Linked DNA regions of Homo sapiens. The protein of the gene in region 2 interacts with the protein of the main gene of each other region in a pairwise test. Each region holds a gene or a part of one and is shown on either strand. Other genes may lie near its edges.

The links. Proteins that work in one complex are often made in the same cells at the same time.
Region 1: the proteins of SLC22A2 (region 2) and LAPTM4B interact in a protein complementation assay, tested with the Homo sapiens proteins (one large-scale study listed by BioGRID).
Region 3: the proteins of SLC22A2 (region 2) and PDIA6 interact in a protein complementation assay, tested with the Homo sapiens proteins (one large-scale study listed by BioGRID).

The regions. Positions count from the first base shown.
Region 1 is NC_000008.11:97,777,886-97,783,011, forward strand, and holds part of LAPTM4B (lysosomal-associated transmembrane protein 4B), read left to right. Parts: intron 1-5,126. UniProt on the Homo sapiens protein: Required for optimal lysosomal function. Blocks EGF-stimulated EGFR intraluminal sorting and degradation.
Region 2 is NC_000006.12:160,240,775-160,245,900, forward strand, and holds part of SLC22A2 (solute carrier family 22 member 2), read right to left. Parts: intron 4,772-5,126; coding exon 4,665-4,771; intron 3,013-4,664; coding exon 2,798-3,012; intron 1,629-2,797; coding exon 1,520-1,628; intron 813-1,519; coding exon 700-812; intron 1-699. UniProt on the Homo sapiens protein: Electrogenic voltage-dependent transporter that mediates the transport of a variety of organic cations such as endogenous bioactive amines, cationic drugs and xenobiotics. Functions as a Na(+)-independent, bidirectional uniporter.
Region 3 is NC_000002.12:10,788,062-10,793,187, reverse strand, and holds part of PDIA6 (protein disulfide-isomerase A6 isoform d precursor), read left to right. Parts: coding exon 1-92; intron 93-1,262; coding exon 1,263-1,393; intron 1,394-2,354; coding exon 2,355-2,469; intron 2,470-3,298; coding exon 3,299-3,439; intron 3,440-4,206; coding exon 4,207-4,291; intron 4,292-4,418; coding exon 4,419-4,491; intron 4,492-5,126. UniProt on the Homo sapiens protein: May function as a chaperone that inhibits aggregation of misfolded proteins. Negatively regulates the unfolded protein response (UPR) through binding to UPR sensors such as ERN1, which in turn inactivates ERN1 signaling.

The sequences.
Region 1 (5,126 bases), on a different chromosome or scaffold from region 2:
TGTCTGCCTTCCTTGAAAATGTTCAAATCTGCCGACTTGCAAGTACATCAGAGAACGTAATTTGTAAAATCTAGGGCATTGCATTAGGCAAATGTACTACGTGATCCACAGGAAAGATAAATCCTACTTGAGCCCTGTTGGCTGTAATCCAACCAGACAGTGTAGGTGTGATAAAAGGAGAGTACTCAGCATGCTTTGTCTACTGTTTGAGCACGCTCTCTGTGGAAAGTAGTTATTGGTGTGTTTGTCTTAACGTTTGGAAATAAATGGCCTTTTGAAAGGTAATTAGAAAGCTTTCTAGCAGATGTGAATAAAAATGTTGCTTTAGGTAAACCCTATTTCTGGGAAACCTGGCTTAAGTACTGGTAATCTTTATAAATAGTCTTTTGCATTTCACAAGGCAATGTAAGCCTTTTTCTTTTCTTTCTTTTTTTTTTTTAAAGTAGTGATTTTCACTCAGACCTTTGAATATAATTTTGTGATACCCTACCTTGTTTTAACCTGAATTGACTCTCCCTTAGCTAAGAGCCAGACAAGACTCCATCTTGGCTCCTTCACTTGCAGCCCCTTACCCACCCGCTTCCTCAAGGACTTAACTTGTGCAAGCTGACTCCCAGCACATCCAAGAATGCAATTAACTGATAAGATACTGTGGCAAGCTATATCCGCAGTTCCCAGGAATTCGCCCGGTTAATAGTACCCAGAGCCCCCGCGTTTGTGTCCGGTTGATAACACCCAAAGCCCCGCGTCTGTCACCTTGTGATAGATTTAAAGCCCCTGCACCTGGAACTGTTTACTTTCCTGTAACCATTTGTCCTTTTAACTTTTTGCCTACTTTGTTTTAACTAGACTCTCCCCCTCCCCTTTCTGAACAAAAGTATAAAAGAAAATCTAGCCCCTTCTTTAGGGCCAAGAGAATTTTGAGCACTAGCCGTCTCTGGGTCGCCGGCTAATAAAGGACTCCTGAATTCGTCTCAGAGTGTGGTTTCTCTATAAGTTGCTCGGTTACAACAATTTGGTTGTCCAAAACTTTGATTTTCTTGAACTTTTTTAAGAGAGTTTGTGTGGCTAGGGAGCAGGACCACTGTAAAACGAGGCACCTTCCCTGGTTTGTCCTAACCCTTTCTCTCAGCCAGCCATCTGGATGGAATGGAGTCAATTATCAGAAAGTGGAGAGTTAAGAATTAGCCAGGTGTGGTGGCTCACACCTGTAGTCCCAGCTTGAGTCCCAGGAGTTCGAAGCTGCAGTGAGCTGTGATTGCACCCCTACACTCCAGCCTGGGCAACCAGAGTGAGCACTGTCTCTTAACAGAGGCCAAGTGCGGTGGCTCACGCTTGTAATCCCAGCATTTTGGGAGGCTGAGGCGGGCAGATCATTGGAGGTCAGGAGTTCGAGACCAGCCTGACCAACCATGGCCAGTGTGGTAAAACCCCATCTCTACTAAAAGTACAAATTAGGTGCGGTGGTGTAGGCCTATAATCCCAGCTACTTGGGAGACTGAGGCAGGAGAATTGCTTGAACCTGGGAGGCATAGGTTGCAGTGAGCCAAGATTGTGCCACTGCACTCTAGCCTGGGTGACAGTGAGACTCTGTCTCAAAAAAAGAAAAAAAAAGAGAAAGAGGCCTGGTGCAGAGGCTCACGCCTGTAAGCACTTTGGGCGGCCGAGGTAGGCGGATCACTTGAGGTCAGGAGTTCTAGACCAGCCTGGGCAACATGGCAAGATCCCGTCTCTAATAAAAATACAAAAATTATTCGGTCGTGGTGGCATGCGCCTGTAATCCCAGCTACTCAGGAGGCTGAGGCATGAGAATTGCTTGAACTCTGGAGGTGGAAAGTCCAGCCTGGGTGACAGCAAGACTCTTATCTAAAAAAAAAAAAAAAAAAGTTGGGTGTGGGTGGCTCACGCCTATAATCCCAGCACTTTGGGAGGCCGAGGTGAGTGGATCTTGAGGTCAGGAGTTCAAAACCAGTCTGGCCAAGGTGGTGAAACCTCATCTCTACTAAAACTACAAAATTAGTCGGGCGCAGTGGCAGGCACCTGTAATCTCAGCTGCTGGGGAGGCAGAGGCAGGAGAATCCCTTGAACCCAGGTGGCAGAGGTTGCCGTGAGCCGAGATCACGCCACTGCACTCCAGCTTGGGCAACAGAGTGAGACTCTGTCTCAAAAAAAAAAAAAAAAAAGAAAAGTAAAATAAAGAATAATAATAATAAAGCGGAGAGTTTTCAGACAAGGCAGATATTTAAATAAGAGTCCAGGCCGGGTACGGTGGCTCATACCTGTAATCCCAGCACTTTCGGAGACTGAGGCGGGTGGATCACCTGAGGTCAGGAGTTTTGAGACCAGCCTGGCTAACATGATGAAACCCTGTTTCTATTAAAAATATAAAAAATTAGTGGGGCGTGGTGGCACGTGCCTGTAACCCCAGCTACTTGGGAAGCTGAGAGAAGAATCATTTGAACCCAGGAGGCGGAGGTTGCAGTGAGCTGAGATCGTGCGATTGCACTCCAGCTTGGGCAACAAAAGCGAAACTCTGTCTCAAAATAAATAAATAAATAAAACAAAAAGTAAGAGTCCACAATAAGGGCTCATTTAAGTAATTTCCTGTTTTGCAAGATAGGTAAAGTGGATCTTTTTTATATGTTTTCTTATTGTTGATTCCTACCAATACCGTTTACTAAGGCTCCAAGTGTCATGTACTTTACTAGATACTTTGCATAAGGTTAATTTTTACATATTCCTGGTGAGGTAGATTTTCTTATTCCCATTTTACAGATGAGAAAACTGAGGCTTAGAGAACTTTGGTGATTTACTTGAGAGCTTAAAATCCCATGGTTGGTTTATGATCTGAGTGATGTTTTAATCTGTTCTGTTTCCACTGTTTTACTTTTAAAAGTTGTGCATGTGTTTTGGTTTTGTCTTGGAATAATAAAAGTTTTCCTTCAGTCCTGAAGTAAAGTATATTGACTTCAGGTATTTATTATTATTATTACTATTTTTAAAATTCTGGGCCACGCTAACTTTGGGAGACTTCAGGTATTTATTCTAGAGATCATTTTTTGTTTGTCTCTTTTTTTTTCTTTTATTGAGTTGTGATTTATGTACTACAATTTTTTTTTTTTGAGACCGAGTCTCGCTCTGACGCCCAGGCTGGAGTGCAGTGGCGTGATCTCGGCTCACCACAACCTCCGCCTCCTGGGTTCAAGCGATTCTCCTGCTCAGCCTCCTGAGTAGCTGGGATTACAGGTGAGCTCCGGGCTAATTTTTGTATTTTTAGTAGAGATGGGGTTTCCCCATGTTGTTCAGGCTGGTCTTGAACTCCTGACCTTGTGATCCATCCGCCTTGGCCTCCCAAAGTGCTGAGATTACAGGCGTGAGCCACTGTGCCCGGCCTTTTTTTTTTTTTTTTTTTTTGAGGAGTTTTGCTCTTATTGCTCAGGCCGAAGTGCAGTGGTGCAATCTCAGCTCACTGCAACCTTCGCCTCCTGGGTTCAAGTGATTCCTGCCTCAGCCTCCCAAGTAGCTGGTATTACAGGCACCCACCACTGCGCTTGGCTAATTTTTGTTTTCCTAGTAGAGACAGGGTTTCATTATGTTGGCCAGGCTGGTCTTGAACTCCTGACCTCAGGTGATCCGCCCGCCTCGGCCTCCCACAGTGCTGGGATTACAGGCGTGAGCCACCGTGCCCGGCAAAATTCACAGTTAAATGTAGTTTATTGAGTTGACAAATGCCTCTGTAATGTAACCCACATTCCTTGAGAACATTTCCAAACTTTCAGCAAGTTCCCTTGTGCTGTTTCCCAGTTAATCCCTGCCATATCCCCAATCACTGTAGGTAAGTTTTGCTTATTCATGTAAAATGGAATTATGCTGTGTGTACCCTTCTGTATCTAGCTTCTTTCACTTAGCATAACTTCTTTTAGATTCATTCATCTTCTTGGAGTGTTGCTTTTTATTGCTGAGTATTGTTTTTATTGTATTAATATACCACAATTTGTTTATCCATTTGCCAGATATTGGACATTTGGGTTATTTCCAATTTGGGGCTATTATAAATAAAGCTGCACTGAACATTCTTGCACAAGACTTTGGGGACTTTTTTTTTTTTTTTTGAGACAGAGTTTAGCTCTTGTTGCCCAGGCTGGAGTGCAATGGTGCGATCTCGGCTCACCGCAACCTCCGACTCCCAGGTTCAAGCAATTCTCCTGCCTCAGCCTCCCTAGTAGCTGGGATTACAGGCATGCGCCACCACACCTGTTTAATTTTGTATTTTTAGTAGATAACAGGATTTCTCCATGTTGGTCAGGCTGGTCTCGAACTCCCGACCTCTGGTGATCTGCTCCCCTCAGCCTCCCAAAGTGCTGGGATTACAGGCCTGAGCCACCATGCCCAGCTTTTTTTTTTTTTTTTTTTTTTTTTTTGTGACAAGATCTCACTCTATTGCCCAGGCTGGAGTGGCTCAATGCAGCCTTGTCTTCCCTGGCTCAAGCAGCCTTGCCATTTCAGCCTCCCAAGTAGCTGGGACTACAGGCTCACACCACCACTCCACACCACTCCAGGCTTTTGTTTTTGAGACAGAGCCTCACTCTGTTGTCCAGGCTGGAGTGCAGTGGCGCAGTCTCAGCTCACTGCAACGTCTGCCTCCCGGGTTCAAGCGATTCTCCTGCCTCAGTCTCCTGAGTAGCTGGTACTACAGGCATGCGCCACCATCCCTGGCTAATTTTTTATTTTTGGTAGAGACGGGGTTTCACCATGTTGGTCAGGCTTGTCTCGAACTCCTGACCTCCTGATCCACCTGCTTCGGCCTCCCAAAGTGCTGGGATTACGGGCGTGAGCCACCGTCCCCAGCCTTTTTTTTTTTCTGAGACGGAGTCTCGCTCTTGTTGCCCAGGCTGGAGTGCAGTGGTGCAGTCTCGGCTCACTGCAGCCTCCGCCTCTTGGGTTCAAGTGATTCTCCTGCTTCAGCCTCCAAAGTAGCTGGGATTGCAGGCATGCACCACCATACCTGGCTAATTTTGTATTTTATTTATTTATTTATTTATTTATTTATTTATTTATTTATTTTTTAGTAGAGACGGGGTTTCTCCATGTTAGTCAAGCTGGTCTCAAACTCCCGACCTCAGGTG
Region 2 (5,126 bases):
TTCAATTAAAAGCAGCTCAGAATGGGTGTCAAAGGAGCCTGAAATGGGTGCATTGAGGTGTTCCAGTTAACCAGAGAAGGCTCAGTGCTGGTGTGTTCCTGCTGGCAGTAGCAGAAGGGAAGTGCTATGTGACGCTCCTGAAATCTAATTGCTCCAGGTGCATCAACACAGGTGCTCCATTATGCTGATGCATTTTCTTAATGTGGGTCTTTATTTCCTCTGGGTTTTGAAATTGCCTTTTGCAAAATTTTAACCCCCTTCTTTGAAGTAAGAAGTAAAAGGGCTTGTGTTTTACCACCTCTGGGCATGGAGGAGTTAACTCTTTGACAGAGACCTCAGGAAGGGTGGAAATCAGCAGAGAGAGAGTTAGGGGCCTGCTGCTGGGAAACTTTCTTCCTTCTCATTCTTCTCTTCAACATTCTGCCTCTATGGCAGGAGTCCCATACTTGAGTATTAGTAGTGATGATAATATTATGAATACTGAACTAGTATTATTGATTAGTATTACTAATACTAATAATATTACTAATTACTAGGCACATCCAGGAAGAACGCAAGCCACAGACACATCATTACTACTATGAGTAGTAATTAGTAGTTACTAATAGGCATGACACCTGTTTTGAATGAAGTAGAAGAGAAGTGAAGGTCTCTAGAAAAATAAGTTTTCACTTAAAGACATCTGTGAAGATTTCTTACCGAAAACCATCAGCGGGAGCTCAAGCCAGATGTTAGTGAGCCGGTAGACCAGGAATGGCGTGATGATGCCACCAATGTCACACATTGAGGAACAGATGTGGACGCCAAGATTCCTAGAATGCAGGAAACTGATTTAACTTGTTAACTTATCACAGTGCAGTAGTTATCTCCCATCCACCCCTGAATAAACACTTCCTCAAATAATTAAAATGTTCAAGAGCTATAGTGTACACTGCTCAGGTGACGGGTGCACCAAAATCTCAGAAATCACCACTGAAGAACTTATTCATACAACCATATACCACCTGTTTCCCAGAAACCTATTGAAATAAAAAAAAAACACCAAAAATAAAATGTTCAAGAGTTTAAAAAAACATTCACGTTATTTTCAATGCACAATATTTTATATATATATATATATACATAATTCCATTCATATTCTGTCATTCTTGTTTTGTATAAACCTTAAATTTTTTTTTAATGATGGGAGGAGCAATTGTTTCTTTTTACTTCCATCACCTGGCTTCCCTAAGCTGTTTCTATGGACCTGTTTGTGCTGTTCCACAACAATCTCCCCTGTAGCCATTGGGTAATCCCTGTCTTGCAATTCAATTTTCTGTTCTCACCATGGCCTCTGTATTTTACCCCAGCCTGTAAGTGTGAGAGGTGAACTGCTGGGCCTGGCTGGACCTTTACGTGTTCTCACCTTCCCTTACACTGTGTTTTGAAGGTAAGATATCCTTTGTCTGCACTTGTGGTGGTTCCAGCCAATGAACAAATGTCTCACCCACCCTCGTCATTCTAAGGAAAATGCACTCACCTAATGAATGTGGGGTACAGCTCAGCATTGACCAGGCAGACTATCTCATAGGCCATTGTGATCCCCATTCTTCCCAAGCATGAGATAATAATTTTTAGCCATTGTAGATCTAAGAGGGAAAAGAACAGTACTTATCCGTACACAGATGATTCCTCATCTTCAGACAGTGCTCCAGAGTGGGACTGTAAGGACAAATTCCCCATCCCAGAATGGGACAAGAAAGAAAAATGACTTCTTCTATAGGCTCATGTTAATGTCAGCAGATTCTCACGTTTGTTCATCTTAACCTCAGACACAATGCTAATTCTCTCTTTTTTAAAAAAGATATTTTTTTTAGAGCAGTTTTAAGTTCACAGCAAAATGGAGAGGAAGGTACAGAGATTTCCCACATAACCTCTGCCCCCACACATGCATTCCACCCCCCACTGCCCATCATCGACATTCTCCACAGAGTGGTATGTTTGTTACTTGATGAACCTTCAGTGGCAACGATAATCACCCCAAATCTATAGCTGGCATTAGGGTTCACTCTTGGTGGTACACCTCCTGTGGGTTTGGACAAATGCATAATGACCTGTATCCACTATTTTAGTATCATATGGAATAATTTCACTGCCCTAAAAATCCTCTGTGTTCTCTTAACTTTAGACCTCAGTTGTTAATGACAACGGAGTTATACCAGTTTCCAAAGCTGGGCCAACTTTAGTCTATAGAAGTCAAAGAAAGAGCAAAATATGGGCACATTTAAACAACTGCTAATAACAAAAGGATTCAAACGAAGCTCCATATTGCTAAAAGGATTCTCTTATCCAGGTATTTGTTCCCCTTCGTTGAGGAAGCATTTTAAAAGGGAAAAAGGGAACTGAATAGTTATTTATGGATGGCATTTACTTACATTTTTCTCATTTATTCTGCAGGTTGATGCAGGGAGGTCAAGAGAGTCCCCAGTTAACACCCAGGAAGGGCTGGAGTAAGACCTTGACCTGGGCCTGCTTTACCCAAGGCCCATGCTCTCTGCTCCAGGTCATCTTGATGGCCTGTAGCATGGGGCTGTAAAGTCTCTCTTGTTACATCACATCAAGGAAAAATTGGGTACAATTTTTCCTAAAGGGAGGCTGGCCATATGAATTTGCTCAGAAGGGTCCCAGATACTGCCCTCCAATTTGTCTTTCCAAATTGATTTGGATGACAAATTACATGGTTTTCCTATCAATGGGCCGTGACACTCCCTTTCTCCAGGGTCTTGGAGATAAGACTCCAACTTCACCTGAAACTTACCACCAGGTATAAAAACTGAGGCCAGACAGGCTGCCCCTGCAACCATATTTGATGCAGCCCAAGGGTAACGGCGTCCGATGCGGTCGATGGTGAGGATGATCATGAAGGCAGCTGGGAATTCAACCAGGGCAGAGTAGAAGAAATCCAGGTAGATATTGTCACCTGCAAGGCCCATGTGCATGATGAGGCCCTGGTAGAGCACAGAGCTCGTGAACCTGAGCAAAGAGGAGAGTTCAGGTCAAGTCAAGCACCAAACACAGGGCACCAAAAAAGAGAGGCTTCTGGAAAAATAATGTGGATTGTAGGTCACCTTTCCCTGTGACCATCTCCTTGCTAGTCCCCCATCCCACTGCTTTTATAATCTCTGATCTACTTCAGTGGCTGGCTGTGGCTGGGTAGTTTCCAAAAACCAGGAGAAGGGAAGAAATTGGAATAGTTAGAACTAATTAGAAATTACGATAATGTTTCCTGGACAAATTGAAAGCCAAGAAGAATGTCTTAATGGAATGATTTATTTTATTTATTTATTTTTTGAGACAGAGTCACTCTGTTGCCCAGGCTGGAATGCAGTGGTGCAATCTTGGCTCACTGCAAACTCTACCTTTCAGTTTCAAGTTATTCCCCTGCCTCAGCCTCCCTAGTAGTTGGGATTACAGACGTGTACCACCTGCTAATTTTTGTGCTTTTAGTAGACATGGGGTTTTGCCATGTTAACCAGGCTGGTCTTGAACTCCTGGCTTCATGTGATCTGCCTGCCTCAGCCTCCCGAAATGCTGGGATTCCAGGTGTGAGCCACTGTGCCTGGCCAATGGAATGATTTATTTAGTAAAACTATATCAAGTTATTAGTGGTTGTGAGTTATTTCTCTCTTTGGGGTATTCTAGTGCAATTGGGATCGAAAGAACTGACTACTTAATTCAAATTTTAGGAAACCAGAAGACCAAGTGAGTACGGCCTCCCTTCTTGGTGACTTCTCTCCTGGCCTGTTACGAACAACATTTGGACAATGTTTCTAGTTTATTAACTAAACATAGTCATTACATGTAATGGAAAATATGAGGATAATCAACAAAAGTCACGATTACTCAGAAAAGGAAAGAAGGATAATGAGGCCAAATTTCAAAGCTGCCTCTCCTGTGCACTATTGTAAAGGTTGCTAAAGTAATTCCTCATGAGCTTTGCTTTTGTCAGTGATTGTAAATCTCCATTTGCCTGGGTGGAGATCCAATGTGCCCTGAAAAGATGCATTCCCCACTAGAGAAAGCATGGCTTGAAGCTCTGAGAGCAGCCTGTAGGTAGCAAACACAATAAAGATCAAGTCACTGGGCTGTGAAGCCACTGGAATTATTCTTGTTCAGAAATTTATTTTTTCTCCAGGTAGAAAAGAAAAAAAGGAAAGAAAAGGCAATCCCCCCACAACCCTGTTTTTTGTTTGTTTGTTTTTTGCCAGTTCTGTACTACAATAGAGATCTACATGCATCATCAATTAAGTTATACCAATAGTTCTCTAGTTGGGCTATGCATTTGAATCACCTGGAGAATTAAAAAACTATTGGTTTCCAAGCCCTACCCTAGAACAATTAAATCAGTATTTCTGGGGGTTTTGGCTTTGGTATTTTGTAAGCTCCCAGGTGATTCCAATGTGAAGCCGAGGTTGCCATTGCCTTGATCTGTGCTTAGGGGCTACACCGATCTTAATATTTGCCCAAGAAAAACACGATCAGGAAAACCTACCAGACACAACCCACATTGCTGCCCACCGTCAGCGCTAATACCGGGATGAGGTCATGTTTTCTTCCCTTCCTTACTATGGATGACTGTGATTAAAACAATTTGGAGGCATTTCAAAGTGAAAAATATTCCTTACCAGTTGTACATCAATATCATAGTATGTTTCCTTATCTGAGGAGTTCTGACCAAGTCAAGAAATGAAGGGTTCAATTTCTTGCCAGTTTCCTCTTCAAGTCTCAGGCGCTAAGAAAAGGAATAGAAAGGACGGCTTTGTATATTTAATGCTAGTGTCCCTGGGTCACATAGGGAATAACAATAATTTCTTACCGTCCTGAGCGCCCATCTCATGCCCAGCACTAGAGCAAGCACTTTCCATACTGTGTCCCATTTCATTTTTTTTTTTTTTTTTTTTTTGAGACTGAATCTTGCTCTGTCACCCAGGCTTGAGTGCAGTGGTGCAATCTCGGCTCACTGCAACCTCCACCTCCTGGGTTCAAGCAATCCTCTGCCTCAGCCTCCTGAGTAGCTGGGATTACAGGCATGCACCACAATGCCCAGCTTTTTTTTTTTTTTTTTTTTCCCCGAGACAGGGTCTTGC
Region 3 (5,126 bases), on a different chromosome or scaffold from region 2:
AAGCCATTGTAGATGCTGCGCTGAGTGCTCTGCGCCAGCTCGTGAAGGATCGCCTCGGGGGACGGAGCGGAGGATACAGTTCTGGAAAACAAGTAAGACCATAAAATGTCAGTTTTTAATGTGTCATAATTTTGAAGCCAGAGTGGATACCTTGTATAAGATAGTTGTTTTTTAACAGTATGTTAAAGTGGTGAACTCTCAATTAAAGAATAATAGAGGATTGGATCCACCGATCCCAGAGGGAACCAGCCCTCCAGCCTGCTCATTTGGCCTCCTCAGAATTGCTGTTGCCAAAGCCAGTCAGTCCCAGGGCCTCTTGCCACACCTGCAGTCCAAGTACCAGGCCCAGGAGCCACGTGCTGGCATCCCATGGCACTTGTAGGTCCAGAGTGGGGATGGGATGGACGGGTTTTCCTCTAGGTAGGCTTTGGCAAACCGTGATGAGATTGGATTACCTCTTGGCCTGTATCTGTGGCAGTCAGCCCCAAATCCATGGAAAATTCTACACAAATGGATAGGGAAGAAGAGAGAGAGAGAGGAGCAGATTGGTGTTTTAGATGCCCTTATGTGAAATGTGAAGCTTACACTGATGTTCTTGTGAAAAGACAAACTTGAAGATCTATCAATATTAAATGGGCTTTTACTTTTAGGAGACCAGTTACACTAGCTTCTTTATACAGGCTCAGAGCTTACCCAGAGATTTCATGCTCTTGCCTTTTATTTTAAACTTAGACATTTAATGAGCATAGTTGCCTGGCCCCCTGCACCCTGCCTGGCAACAGAAAGCAATGCTGACTGCTTCTTAGATTTAGTACTGAAGAACATTCTTCGAAAAAAGAAAAGGATTAAGTGTTATTTTTAGCTCTGTTGACTGGTAGGGACTTTGTCTATGAAAGATGTAACATAACATCCTAGGATGAAGCAGCAGCTGTACTTGAGTCTGAATTAGAACAGTGTTGTTCAGGTGGTTTTTTGAGCCATGTTGAGGTTTCTCTCTAAAAATAGCTGGTGACAGCATTCAGGTACAGGTTATGTGTTGTACTGAATGTATTGATAATTACTTGAAAGTAAAAGACTATTTGCCAAGCAAAAATTACAGTGCTGAGGAATGTACCCAATTTGAATACAACCGTTTTCACTATTTTATTCACTAAAGAAAAACCCTAAAACTTTGTTAAGATGTAGCAGTAGTGTTATTATTTAAAACAGGAAAAGTGTTCTTCTTGGCCCAATTGTTTGATGTTTAATGTCATAAATGACAGGGCAGAAGTGATAGTTCAAGTAAGAAGGATGTGATTGAGCTGACAGACGACAGCTTTGATAAGAATGTTCTGGACAGTGAAGATGTTTGGATGGTTGAGTTCTATGCTCCTTGGTGTGGACACTGCAAAAAGTAAGTGCCTTCTACTAAGTAGTCTGTTCATTCACAGTGTTTTCAGTACATTCATTAGCTTATTTTGAAAGAGCTGAAGTAGATAATAGATCACCACTAAGATCTCTTCCAGCAAAACTCTGACTCTAAGTGAATATTAAACATTGACATTAGCGCCAAGAGCTTCCACTCTCCTATTGCCAAAGATTAACAAGGGACTGGCTCATGTCTGGATTTAGGGGCAGTGGTGGAATGGGAAGCTCATGTGAAGGGTAGCATTGTATCTTTAGTAAAGCCACACACAAAATGTTTTCTAGGTGTGACATAATTGGGGATTGGGCAGAAATGCACAGATCAGTTAAAAAGTATAGGCTAGGCATGGTGGCTCACACCTGTAATCCTAGCTCTTTGGGAGGCCGAGGCAGGCGGATCACTTGAGGTCAGGACTTTGAGACCAGCCTGGGCAACATAGCAAAACCCCATGTCTACTAAAAATACAAAAAAATTGGCTGGGTGTGGTGGCGTGTGCCTGTAGTCCCAGCTACTTGGGAGGTTGAGGTGCAAGAATCTCTTGATTGTGGGAGGCAGAGGCTACAGTGAGCCAAGCTCACACCACTGCGCTCCATCCTGGATAATAGAAGGAGACTCTGTCTTAAAAAAAAAAAGAAAAGAAAAGAAAGGTGTTTGGGCTGCAAGTTAAAATGCAAGTATTTGGCCTGGTGAGGTGGATCACTTGAGGCCAGGAGTTTGAGACCAGCCTGGGCAACATGGGGAAACCCTATCTCTACTAAAAATGTAGAAATTAACAGTGGGTGGTGGCACACACCTGTAGTCCCAGCTATGTTGGAGGCTGAAATGAGATCACCTGAGCCCAGGAGATTGAGGCTGCAGGGAGCCATGATTGCACCACTGCACTCCAGCCTGGGCAACAGAGAGAGACTGTGTCTCAAAGAAACAAAACAAAACGAATATTTTTCTATAGCCTAGAGCCAGAGTGGGCTGCCGCAGCTTCAGAAGTAAAAGAGCAGACGAAAGGAAAAGTGAAACTGGCAGCTGTGGATGCTACAGTCAATCAGGTTCTGGCCTCCCGATACGGGGTGAGTATACTTATAAGGCTCATTTCATTGTGAAATACATGGTGTTTCGTTACTTCTTCCAATACTCCAGGCCTCCCTATGAGGTAGTAAAGGAGATGTTTAAACCATTTTGTAAGTGAAGAGATAAAGTCACTTTATTGTCATAACTAACAAGTCTGAAACTCAGGACTGTCAACTTTTCCCCCTAATGTCACACTGCTTCTGGTATATACTTAATGTGAGGTTTCAGCTTGCCCAGACTTATTCAAGTTGCTCATATGGCTGTTGTGAGTTGGTCCATTTGTTCTAGGGCAGGTACTTTGTGTTAATTATATACCAGGGCTTGAATATGATTGGCTAAACTTCACAGACTGTTAAAACTCCCTGATTGATAATTGACCTCTGTGAGTCATTCCTTTGAAATCTGTGCAGTCTGGAGAACAGTTTTGTTACATTAAATTACCTATAAGGCCAGAGTGGTGGCTCACACCTGTAATCCCAACACTTTGGGAGGCCAAGGATCACTTGAGGCCAGGATTTCAAAACCAGCCTGGCCAACATGGTGAAACCCCGTCTCTATTAAAAATACAAATATTAGCCGGGTGTGGTGGTGTGTGCCTGCAGTCCCAGCTACTCAGGAGGCTGAAGTAGGAGAATTGCTTGAACCCAGGAGGCAGAGGTTGCAGTGAGCTGAGATTGCACCTGTGCTCTCCAGCCTGGGCAACAGAGTGAGACTGCTTCAAAAAAAAAAAAAAAAAATTACCTATAAGGTGGTTTTAGAAACTGTAAAGATTGTGTTATTTTGCATTAAGTGTTAATTGGATTTTATCCTCTGACCTTTTTTTAATAGATTAGAGGATTTCCTACAATCAAGATATTTCAGAAAGGCGAGTCTCCTGTGGATTATGACGGTGGGCGGACAAGATCCGACATCGTGTCCCGGGCCCTTGATTTGTTTTCTGATAACGCCCCACCTCCTGAGCTGCTTGAGGTAAACCACTTCAACTGCTTGTAGTCCAGAAAGCTTTTTTAGCTGATGGTGAGGAATGTTAAAGCAGTGTGACACACTGTTCATTTTATGCCCTTAAAGATACTCTCTTTAAAGTGGTTTCTATACTTTGAAATGGAAAAAAAGTCTGATAAATTGCTTTTCATAACTTTTAGCATTAGAATAATTACACTGAACAGAAATACGAGCTTCTTAAAGATAGAGTGTATTCAATCACTCTTGCTTATCATTCTCAAAGTAATAGAACATTTATCAAGTACTAATCATGTAACAGGCACCGTTCTGGTGTCTTTGTATAGTTTTGTTTTGTTTTGTTTTGTTTTCATTTAATTCTCACATGAACACTGAGAGGTAGATACTGTTTTTAATCTCCATTTTATATATGGGGAAATTGAGGCACAGAGCCTCAAGTGTGTATAAACATATAAGACATATAATACATGTAAGTATAATCTATTTAAACAAGTAAGTGGCAGAGCCAGGCTGTGTCCAGGCATTGCGATTTCAGAGATGTTTGTATGTGTGCTAATCACCCCACCTCCACCACCACAGCTTCCACAGGCTTAAGAATCAGTAGCAGAAAAATCTCCTCTTAGAGAACATGCCTCCAGGTGTTTCCATACGAGGAAGTAGTCGTGGGAGAAATGTTTTCAATGAAAGTGACGGTGCGAAGGTCTTGTTTGCCAGCTTACCTTTAGGTGTTGTATCATGCAGCCTCCTGATTGTCCCTTGTCTTTTGGGTCCCACAGATTATCAACGAGGACATTGCCAAGAGGACGTGTGAGGAGCACCAGCTCTGTGTTGTGGCTGTGCTGCCCCATATCCTTGATACTGGTAAGACAGACGGAAATGATTTCCCTTAGCTGTTCTATGCTAGATGCTCTGAGAATACTTTCTAAATGGATTAATTTTATGGACTCCTTTATCTTTACCTTTAAAAAACTTTGTCTATTTAAATCAGGAGCTGCAGGCAGAAATTCTTATCTGGAAGTTCTTCTGAAGTTGGCAGACAAATACAAAAAGAAAATGTGGGGGTAAGTTACTGAGCTTACTGTCTGAGTGTCATCTGAACAGCTGATTATAGGCTTTCTTGAGAGTGGTTCCCCCGTGTTTTTGTAAGCTGTGTTCTATGTTTGCTCTGCTATATGTTTTTTTTTTTTTTCCCTCCTGCCTCAGCCTCCCAAGTAGCTGGGATTATAGGCGCCCGCCACCACACCCAGCTAATTTTTGTATTTTTAGTAGGGTCAGGGTTTCACCATGTTGTCTAGGCTGGTCTCAAAACTCCTGACCTCAAGTGATCCACCTGCCTCCACCTCCCAAAGTCCTGGGATTACAGGTGTAAGCCACCGCACCCGGCCTGCTCTGCTATATGTTTTTATTCAGGATGTGAAAACTTTATCATGGGAGGAAAAGAAGGAATGAAGGGCTGTCAGCACAGCATGCATTTTTCTCATAGGAATCATGTTTTACATGGTGATTGGAGTGCCAGGTTAGCAGGCAGACACATAAGGAGTAGTGCACCTGAATTCTACTGTGAACTTGAAGGCTGGGTGAGAAAGGGGAAATAGAATTGTTTCCTTCTCCTCTTCTGAGTTAAGGACTGGATCTAGGCACATTTTCAAAACAGTGTATCTCTTTCCTATTTTATCCTTTTTTTTTTTTTTTGAGA